Regions from separate parts of the Homo sapiens genome. Here regions 2 and 3 are each reported to be linked to region 1. The links are microRNA targets in miRTarBase. Many come from high-throughput screens and were not tested one by one. Region 1 holds a microRNA gene; each other region holds the end of a gene's coding sequence.
Evidence for each region. The annotated mature microRNA hsa-miR-1-5p reads ACAUACUUCUUUAUAUGCCCAU and lies in region 1 at 2,583-2,604, opposite strand. An mRNA with a match to its seed (bases 2 to 7 or 8) in the 3' UTR can be bound and repressed. Matches are read on the target gene's strand: a 7mer-m8 pairs with bases 2 to 8, a 7mer-A1 pairs with bases 2 to 7 and ends in A, and an 8mer does both.

Region 1 (4,650 bases):
AGCGGCTGTTTCCACGAGCGGGAGCCTGGCCCAGCCTCTGATCACCGTGGGGCAGTTTCCAGAGTGTTCTGGGAAACCCAGAAGCCTACACCTGGTGCTACCTGCTCTAGGGAGTGAGAGACACCGGCACTGGCCACCTCCTCATGGCCACACAAACCCACCTGGGTTCCCGAGCTGGCAGGCGAGGGGGTGGGTGTCCCATGTCCAGCCCCCTCAGCCCAGTCCAGGCTCATTTCCCTCTGAGAGTCCCGGCCCCCATGGTAGCGTGCCTAAGCCGTCTCAGGAGAGTCCCTGCGGGCAAGACATAGCCAGTGAGGGTCTGTGCCCCCGCCCTGCCTGCTCTCCCCTCCTTCAAACGGACAGGCACAAAGACCCCCACAGGGGAAAGTCCCAGCGTGTCCATGCCCCACGCCAGTTTGGGGTTCCCGTCCTGGCTGCTGCCCGGGAGCCAAGCTTTAGAGATTCACGCATGGGAGACTCCAGCCCCGGGTCCCAGTGTCTCCAGGAAAGCAGCAGGATCCCCAGGGAGCACCATCAGGCCACACGTGCAGGGGAGAGGGGCTCGGGCTGCCATGGGCGGTGTCCGTGCAATGCTCATTTTTAATTCAGCAGATCAGAGACTGGAGGTGATTTACCGCCAAGCAGGCCGCAGCTCTCTCCCTGTGAACTCTCCAGTTTTACTGCTCAGTCAAACCTAATTCCAAAACACTAATGCTTTTATTTAAACACCACATCCTGCAATAAAGCTTTAATGTACAACAGCCGCATCTAGGGGAAAAGAACGGTGTGTCTGTGGCCACCGGCAGCCTCGGTGGCCACACGCCCGGCTACTTCCCTCCCTGTGGCCGGAGCTGGGAGCAGGCAGGGAAGAGATGACGTCAGCGGATGCTGGGCACTGACCCTCCGGGTCCAGAGGCCGAGAGGAGGCTGTGCCCGAGGTCAACACCCGCCCCCTTGCTGCTACGCCAGATGGGGCTGAGGCTGGGAGAACGAAGTTTCCAGAAGGAAGACCTGAAGGCCAGGAGCCCTGACTGCCAGGCCCTCCCCTCCAGTCACCTCGAGGCTCCCTGAGGGGTGGGAGCCACCTGAAAGCTCAGAACGGCCCCCAATCCCTTTATCCAGCGCTCCCTATGCTGGCCCCAGCTGCTCAGGTGACCTGGCTGCCCCCAGACCCAAGGCCTCCAGCCGCTGCAGGAGGGGGCTGCCTGCCTGTCCCTTCCCGCCTCATTCCTGCCGAAGGCCAGGGTGCGGGAGGTAGGGCACAGGGGCACCGCTGTGGCTGGAGCAGTGCCAAGGCAGAGAGGACACACACCCCAGAAATTAATCCTGAGGCCTGTGGCAGGGTGGGGGTGCCCAGGCAGGGACCTGGCCTCATCCCAGGTGGCAAACGCCTCCAATCTGAGACTCAGAAACGAGCCGGGCAAACGCCCCTCACACAGCAGCCCAGCCGCTGCCTAAGACCCCAGAACCCGCCGCCCATCCTCTCCTTGAAGGACCAGCACTGGGGAAAAGGGTTTCACGGACGGATCCGGACCTGCCCTCATCCCCTGGGCCCCAGGACATCCTCCCAGTCCTTTCTCGGGTCAGGACTGGGATGGCGGCAGAGCAGATGGCTCTCAGGCCCCCGACAGGTGGGGCAAGGGGCCCTGGGCCACACGCTGCTTTCTGCCAAAGCCTCACCTGCATTCACAGCAAAACATGCCTCAGGTTGGATTCGGCGGAACAGAGAGAAAGCTGAACCGGGGCTTTGGTGGGGGTACAGGTTGGGGCGGCATGAACCAGACATTTGGCAAAATCGAACGGCTCCCAGGCCCCTGGGGTGGGCTGTGGGTTCAGGGCTGCACAGACTCAGCTCCTCTGACCCTGTCCCAGGTGCCCTCGGCAGAGGAGTGGGGCCTAAGGGCAGTGGTGGCCCTGACCCTGCCCGCGTCCCCAGCATCTCGTGTGGGCTGCGCCTTCCTTGGAGGCTACATGCCTCCGAGTTCCTCTGCCTTGCCCTACAGCCGGGAGGGCTGGATGCAGGTGCAGGAGGTGCCTTCCCTCCGCAGACTCTACCATGTGCTGCCCAGCCTCTCCCTCCTTTCTGCATCCAGCCACCTGCCCTTTTCCAAACTCGCTCTTGTCTTGTGCCTCTGAGCAGTTTCTGCCCTGGCCACACGTGGCCCTTTCTGCCGGCTGATGGCCTCTTCCAGGATGGCCATCAGTGGAGCCCCCAGAGCCGCCGCCACCACTCCGTGCTTTCCAGCCACGGCCCCGACCCCCCAGCCCTCACCAGCCCCGCGCTGGACCCCGCGCCTGCCGGAGGCCGCCTCCCCTCTGCCGCAGTCAGCAAGCTGAATATTTAATGTCTGGTGAGCACTTCCACCTGCTGACACAGGCAAAGTGACAGAACAATGCTGGCGGGGACACGACCGTCCACCAACGCCCAGGCAGCCTGCCGCCCCAGCCTCACCCCCACCACAGCCGCCTGGCTGGCTGTCGGCCGCGGCGGCCCCCGTGGTGTGGAGTGCCCCTCAGTGCGGCGAGAGAGGTCCCGGCCTGAGATACATACTTCTTTACATTCCATAGCTTAGCAGGTCCATATGGGCATATAAAGAAGTATGTTTCCCAAGCAGGCAGTCTGCATGCAGTTCCAAGACCCCGGGACGCCGCCCCGGTAGAAGCTGACCCCACTGCGATGTAGAGAAGGCAGCTCAGAGGCAGTGTAACTTCTTCCCTGGAGTCTACTGCCGGAGCCCTCTCTGTGTGAGCAGGACAGCCTTCCTGCCACTGCTGCCTGGTGTCCAGCCACCCCCAGGGGCCCAGGACTCCCTGCCCCCTTCTGACCTCGGCGCCCCTCCATCCCTGAATCCATCTCTCTCTGTCTGTCTCACACACTCACACGATCCAGAAAGGCAGAAGTGGACAGTGAGCCCCAGAAAGTCTCGAGCGCCTGTCCCTGGCCCCAGCAGTAGCTCGGTTTTGCGTCCATGGAAGAGACAGGCTGCCCCTCCACCCTCACCCCAGAGCAGGGAGGCATCATCCATGTCCCAAACTTTCAAAGCCAACACTTTCCTGTCCCCCTGGGTCACCTCATCCCAGCCAAGCCCAGAGAGGGCTGGGTGGAGAGAGGAACCTTGGGGGGCGCCCTGCCCAGCACCCCACTCGCAGGACCAGCCTCCTCCTTCTCCGGGAGCTGGACAACTCCTTGCTCCTGAGGCCAGACGAGGAACTGCAGACCAGAGACCCGAGAGGTGTCCTGGGGGCTTACCTGGGCATCTGCTGGTTTCCTGGGCAGGTCCCTGGTGAAGGCTGCCTCCCGGGACCCCGTATCCATGAGGAAGGGCTCAGCACCTCTCTCCGAAGATGCAGGCGAGAAAGACGATGCTTGGAGGAGTCCAGGTTCCCAGAGGGTGGTCAGGATCTCCTGAGAGGCCGTCCACTAGGGGGGCAACTCCCTAGGTGCCTCAGCCTGGCCACAGCAGACACCCAGTGGGCGAGGGAGCGTCGCTCCCCCGGTTCTCTCCCTCCTTCTCTCGCTCTTCTTCACCCTCTCCCCCGTCCCCGCCTCGCAGCGTCACCACCCTGAACCGCCGCGCAGTGCGGCCCACCTGAAGCGGCAGCTGCGCAGAGCCAGCAGCTTACATGGGCACCGGGGGTCAGCAGCCACCGTCACCTGCCCAGCGCCACTGCCGTGGCACCCCCGGGAGGCTGGTCCCACACCTGGCTCTTTGTGGCCAGCCGCCCAGCCTCCACCAGCCCCTGATCAATACCAATTTACAGTCAAATGCAGGGGGCCGCCTTCCTGTTAATGAATTTCCCGGTGCTCACCAGCTCCTAATGAGCCTGTTAAAGAGGGTTTAAGTAAACTTAGCGAGTGGCAAACTAAGCACTTTGGAATACTTAATTGTATCGATATGTTTTTCATTGCGTTTAAAAATGTCTCTGAGTGGGAAGCAGAGGCTGCCTCCTTCCCTGCCAACTTCTATGACCAGCCGTGAAGCCAGACTCTGAAAAATGTGGAGAAAGAGCCAGAAGGAGACCAATGGGACCTCAAGGTTAGGCCCTCACCAGCAGGAAGGGAAGCCGCCCCGAACCTGCTGGGAGCGGGGAGAGGAGGAGGAGGAGGAGGAGGAGGCCTGCAGGGTTTCGAGGCCTCGCAGTGGCCCAGGGCGAGCCTGGCACGTGCGGTGGTGAGAGGTGGAAAGAAGGCTTTGCAGGTGCCTGGGGGGGACGGGGGCCAGGGAGGCGCCAGTTGGGGGTGCAGGCCGGGCACAGACACAGGAGGCTTGCTAAGCGGTGGGGTCCAGCTGGGCCCTGGCCCCTGTCCTGCCACTGACCCTGGCGTGGGGTGGGACAGCAGCCCCGGGACATGAAAGGACCTCCCGTTGTCCTCATCAGGAAGAGAGGTCCAACATGACTCTGTTGCTCCTCCAGGCAGCCCGTCCATGCGAGGGGACAGCCCGGAGCGAGTTGGTTCTCTCTTACCACCCAGGGCAGGGCAATGTCTCCGCAGAGCCTGCAGTGTGCAGAGGCCACTGAGCATGCTGTGGCTGTGTGGCAGTGGGTCTGCAGCTGGGCATGGCTGGGTTGGAGTTTCACGTGGGGGTGGGTGGGGGCGGGGGGTGGGGGTTGTGCTTAAGGCTCTGGAGGCATCCCCTCTACAAAGGA
Region 2 (3,000 bases), not on the chromosome of region 1:
TTCAAGAGGCTTGACATCATTGGCTGACACTTTCGAACACGTGATAGAAGAGCTGTTGGATGAGGACCAGAAAGTTCGGCCCAATGAAGAAAACAATAAGGACGCAGACTTGTACACGTCCAGGGTGATGCTCAGTAGTCAAGTGCCTTTGGAGCCTCCTCTTCTCTTTCTGCTGGAGGAATACAAAAATTACCTAGATGCTGCAAACATGTCCATGAGGGTCCGGCGCCACTCTGACCCTGCCCGCCGAGGGGAGCTGAGCGTGTGTGACAGTATTAGTGAGTGGGTAACGGCGGCAGACAAAAAGACTGCAGTGGACATGTCGGGCGGGACGGTCACAGTCCTTGAAAAGGTCCCTGTATCAAAAGGCCAACTGAAGCAATACTTCTACGAGACCAAGTGCAATCCCATGGGTTACACAAAAGAAGGCTGCAGGGGCATAGACAAAAGGCATTGGAACTCCCAGTGCCGAACTACCCAGTCGTACGTGCGGGCCCTTACCATGGATAGCAAAAAGAGAATTGGCTGGCGATTCATAAGGATAGACACTTCTTGTGTATGTACATTGACCATTAAAAGGGGAAGATAGTGGATTTATGTTGTATAGATTAGATTATATTGAGACAAAAATTATCTATTTGTATATATACATAACAGGGTAAATTATTCAGTTAAGAAAAAAATAATTTTATGAACTGCATGTATAAATGAAGTTTATACAGTACAGTGGTTCTACAATCTATTTATTGGACATGTCCATGACCAGAAGGGAAACAGTCATTTGCGCACAACTTAAAAAGTCTGCATTACATTCCTTGATAATGTTGTGGTTTGTTGCCGTTGCCAAGAACTGAAAACATAAAAAGTTAAAAAAAATAATAAATTGCATGCTGCTTTAATTGTGAATTGATAATAAACTGTCCTCTTTCAGAAAACAGAAAAAAAACACACACACACACAACAAAAATTTGAACCAAAACATTCCGTTTACATTTTAGACAGTAAGTATCTTCGTTCTTGTTAGTACTATATCTGTTTTACTGCTTTTAACTTCTGATAGCGTTGGAATTAAAACAATGTCAAGGTGCTGTTGTCATTGCTTTACTGGCTTAGGGGATGGGGGATGGGGGGTATATTTTTGTTTGTTTTGTGTTTTTTTTTCGTTTGTTTGTTTTGTTTTTTAGTTCCCACAGGGAGTAGAGATGGGGAAAGAATTCCTACAATATATATTCTGGCTGATAAAAGATACATTTGTATGTTGTGAAGATGTTTGCAATATCGATCAGATGACTAGAAAGTGAATAAAAATTAAGGCAACTGAACAAAAAAATGCTCACACTCCACATCCCGTGATGCACCTCCCAGGCCCCGCTCATTCTTTGGGCGTTGGTCAGAGTAAGCTGCTTTTGACGGAAGGACCTATGTTTGCTCAGAACACATTCTTTCCCCCCCTCCCCCTCTGGTCTCCTCTTTGTTTTGTTTTAAGGAAGAAAAATCAGTTGCGCGTTCTGAAATATTTTACCACTGCTGTGAACAAGTGAACACATTGTGTCACATCATGACACTCGTATAAGCATGGAGAACAGTGATTTTTTTTTAGAACAGAAAACAACAAAAAATAACCCCAAAATGAAGATTATTTTTTATGAGGAGTGAACATTTGGGTAAATCATGGCTAAGCTTAAAAAAAACTCATGGTGAGGCTTAACAATGTCTTGTAAGCAAAAGGTAGAGCCCTGTATCAACCCAGAAACACCTAGATCAGAACAGGAATCCACATTGCCAGTGACATGAGACTGAACAGCCAAATGGAGGCTATGTGGAGTTGGCATTGCATTTACCGGCAGTGCGGGAGGAATTTCTGAGTGGCCATCCCAAGGTCTAGGTGGAGGTGGGGCATGGTATTTGAGACATTCCAAAACGAAGGCCTCTGAAGGACCCTTCAGAGGTGGCTCTGGAATGACATGTGTCAAGCTGCTTGGACCTCGTGCTTTAAGTGCCTACATTATCTAACTGTGCTCAAGAGGTTCTCGACTGGAGGACCACACTCAAGCCGACTTATGCCCACCATCCCACCTCTGGATAATTTTGCATAAAATTGGATTAGCCTGGAGCAGGTTGGGAGCCAAATGTGGCATTTGTGATCATGAGATTGATGCAATGAGATAGAAGATGTTTGCTACCTGAACACTTATTGCTTTGAAACTAGACTTGAGGAAACCAGGGTTTATCTTTTGAGAACTTTTGGTAAGGGAAAAGGGAACAGGAAAAGAAACCCCAAACTCAGGCCGAATGATCAAGGGGACCCATAGGAAATCTTGTCCAGAGACAAGACTTCGGGAAGGTGTCTGGACATTCAGAACACCAAGACTTGAAGGTGCCTTGCTCAATGGAAGAGGCCAGGACAGAGCTGACAAAATTTTGCTCCCCAGTGAAGGCCACAGCAACCTTCTGCCCATCCTGTCTGTTCATGGAGAGGGTCCCTGCCTCACCTCTGCCATTTTGGGTTAGGAGAAGTCAAGTTGGGAGCCTGAAATAGTGGTTCTTGGAAAAATGGATCCCCAGTGAAAACTAGAGCTCTAAGCCCATTCAGCCCATTTCACACCTGAAAATGTTAGTGATCACCACTTGGACCAGCATCCTTAAGTATCAGAAAGCCCCAAGCAATTGCTGCATCTTAGTAGGGTGAGGGATAAGCAAAAGAGGATGTTCACCATAACCCAGGAATGAAGATACCATCAGCAAAGAATTTCAATTTGTTCAGTCTTTCATTTAGAGCTAGTCTTTCACAGTACCATCTGAATACCTCTTTGAAAGAAGGAAGACTTTACGTAGTGTAGATTTGTTTTGTGTTGTTTGAAAATATTATCTTTGTAATTATTTTTAATATGTAAGGAATGCTTGGAATATCTGCTGTATGTCAACTTTATGCAGCTTCCTTTTGAGGGACAAATTTAAAACAAACAACCCCCCATCACAAACTTAAAGGATTGCAAGGGC
Region 3 (3,000 bases), not on the chromosome of region 1:
TGTTAAGGACATTGGAGATAGCACCTGGCACATAGTACAAGTGCTCAATAAATAGTAATTTTTTGGTGGTTTGCTACTGTTGTTACATAAATCCTTGTTTTATTAATGCTATAAACTGTCCATTGTTTTTAGGCAGCCCCTAATGGACCTGCATGGTGTTGGTGGCTTCTTGCAGTTCTCCCTGTAGACCCACGATACCAGCTGTCGGTTTTGTCAATGAAGTCTTTGAAAGAACGGTTGACCAAGATACAGCATATACTGACCTATTTTTCTAGAGACCAATCTAAGTAACTAACTCTTTGGATCTCCCTTTAAAGTGACCCTAATCTGGCTGCATTGATGGCCAGATTGTCTGCTGCCTTTGCACATCTAGTGCTGGTTTCAGAAATTTAATGAAACTTTTCTTTTTCCTTCGACCTCCTGAATCATGTGGTTCTGCAAATGAATACCTTCAACTAGGATTTAGACCACTAAGAACTTGCACAGAAAAACACGCATTGAATGTGTGTCGAACCTCTACATTGTGAAGTTGCACTATGTACCATACTCTAAAATGAAATAAGAACTCTTTATGTCTGTGAGAGAGTGTGTGTGTGTGTGTGCGTGCGTGTGTGCTTGTGGGGGTTGGGTAGTGTGTGTGTATTTTCTCTGGCTTTAAAATTTTAAAACAAACAAACAAAAAAGCCATAGAGAGCAGAACTTGCCGAGGGTCATTTATTGCCCAAGTTTACAAGAGTAGCGATACAAGTTTTTGCAAATTGAATTTGCCTCAGATATATCTGTCCTAATGCTTATATTTGCACAAGTATGTAAAATATCGTGTTGAGGATCATTCTTTGTTGGAAACACTGCTCTTGCTGAACTGTCTTGACCATTGACTATGACACAGTTTCTTATTTATGTAAATACTTGCATCACAGTGGCCGACAGGCATTGGATGCAGAACCTAGAGCCAGTTTTCAGGAACAATTGTAAACCTGACATGGTACTGTGCATCTATTCATAAAACACTCAAAACTGTGAAAATATGGTTTACATTTAATTGTACATAAAGGTAAAGGGAGAACTCAATTCAGTACCAGTTAGTTTGTACATTTTAGGGGGCTTTTCACATTAACTGCCCATTTGTGTAATTTATAGTTTGACATGATGTGTTTGTTTTAAAAAAAAATGCATAGTATAAACCCATTAAGGATCTGGGAAAAGAGAAGAAGTTTAATATAGAACTAAGCTTTTAAAGTTTGTTTTTGTTTTTAATTCTGGTCTCGGTGCAAATGTTAGTTATGCCTTATTCATATCACAGTTAGATCACCATGCTGCAACATGGTTTATATTCATGCTGCCCTAGAAACTTTTGTAATTATTTGTTGCAAATTTGTGACTGTCCTTATTAACTTTCTTTTATGTAAGTAATTTGTAAAAGTTTCTTAAAATTTTTGCTTTTGCTTATTTAATTTTGAATAAAAGCTAAATTCCTAATACTTTTTCTTAAATTGTAGGTCAGTGTTATAAAAACAAGTCAGTAGAAGAACCAAACTGCATATGTTAAAGAACAGATGAGTTTTGCTTATGGTTTGGTGGCATTAGATATATGCTATGGTTTCCAAAAACTTTGGCCATTTTTATTTTTTGAGAAAAAAAAAGCAATTTATTGAGGGTTTAGGCCTCGGAACCATCCCTAAAGCACTATTTTTCAACCTTTTAAAAATCCATGTCCCTTTAGGGTAAGGCTAAAATTCTTTCTTTGATGCCTCACCATTTGAGACTTCTCTTGGTTACACAGACTGGACTGTTTCTGCCCCCAGTTCCTCAGCTAGGATTTTGCAAATGTCAGTCAATCATCTTTTTTTTTTTAGAGACAGGATCTTGCTCTATGGCCAAGGCTGGAATGCAGTAGCACAATCATAACTTGCTGCAGCCTCAAACTCCTGGGCTCAAGTGATTTTCCTGTCACAGGATCCTTGGGGTGGCACTTTGCCAGCCAGAAATGTCTGTGGCCGGTGGTGCCTTCTGCCTGAGTAATGCTCATGCCCACTGGGCTTGTTCTGGCCACTCAGCCTGGCAGGCCGTGCTTGGCTTTTGCTACCAGCCCAGATCCCCCACCTGCCAAGAGCGAACCAGGCACGGAGCAGCGAGGGGTGTGTGGGCAAGTGCATGCAGGGTCCAGACACTGCACACAGCCAGGCACACCAGCTGCTGTGTTGGGGTGGGCACCTTCATGCGAGGTTGCAGCTGGACCAGATGCACCACGTGGCTTCCACTGCAGGCACCCACATCTGGACAAGGGGAACACTGTGGCACCCAGAAGCTTGGAGATGCCAGGAACCACAGAGCTCCAAAGAGGGTGTCACAGCCCTGGCTTAGGCACCCTTTAGGTCTGGACTCCCCAAATAGCTGTAGCTCTTCTTGTCACCCACAATGTGGTGAGTTGGGGTGCAAGGGGGGTATGTGTTTCAGCCCTGTTTGTGTTATAGTTCTTTCAGTTTCACCATTTAGCAAGTCCTGAGTTCTTTCCCTGCATCCAGGAAGAATGAGGTGGACAGACAACTGGAAGGTGAGCAAGGCAGAGAGGAGCTTCACTGAGTGATAGAACAGCTCTCAGGAGACCCAAAGTGGGTAGCTCCTTTCTGCAGGCAGGTCTTCCTGATTTGAGTGTCCAGCTTTCAGTGGAGAGAAGACCCTCAGTGGGTAGCTCTTTTCCACAGGCAGGTCATCCCATAGAGTGTCCAGTTCTCAGCAGAGAAGAGACCTGAAGTGGGTAGCTGTTTTCCACAAGCAGGTCATCCAGAAGAGTCAAGGAGACTCACAATGGGTAGCTCCTTCCTGCAGCTGGTAGTCCTGAGGGTCTGTTTGAGTCTTACTGACTCTAGGGTTTTTATGGGCTCAGGAGGGGAAGTGTGTGCTGATCGGTCCATGGGCGGCCATGGGTGGGCTGGGGAAAAAGCTCCATATGTACTCACTCCAGGCAGTGGACTCCAGCTGGAACTGGCAGCTCAGGCC

Region 2: the mRNA of BDNF is a reported target of hsa-miR-1-5p. The part of its 3' UTR that is shown has no 7-base or 8-base seed match.
Region 3: the mRNA of LONRF1 is a reported target of hsa-miR-1-5p. Seed matches in the 3' UTR shown: 7mer-m8 at 804-810.

The regions. Positions count from the first base shown.
Region 1 is chr20:62,552,266-62,556,915 of GRCh38, reverse strand. It overlaps MIR1-1 (microRNA 1-1), which reads right to left and starts at 2,610; the gene lies at 2,540-2,610. MIR1-1HG (MIR1-1 host gene) reads right to left here. Exons shown (of 4, transcript NR_171007.1): 2 at 3,251-3,451. RefSeq lists an enhancer at 1-196.
Region 2 is chr11:27,655,410-27,658,409 of GRCh38, reverse strand. BDNF (brain derived neurotrophic factor) reads left to right here. Exons shown (of 2, transcript NM_001709.5): 2 at 1-3,000. The coding sequence ends at 589. BDNF-AS (BDNF antisense RNA) reads right to left here. Exons shown (of 7, transcript NR_033315.1): 4 at 1-169. Among named protein-coding and RNA genes, the nearest start is that of LINC00678, 22 kb to the right of the region's middle.
Region 3 is chr8:12,720,387-12,723,386 of GRCh38, reverse strand. It overlaps LONRF1 (LON peptidase N-terminal domain and ring finger 1), which reads left to right. Exons shown (of 12, transcript NM_152271.5): 12 at 133-1,481. The coding sequence ends at 291. Among named protein-coding and RNA genes, the nearest start is that of MIR5692A2, 2.8 kb to the right of the region's middle.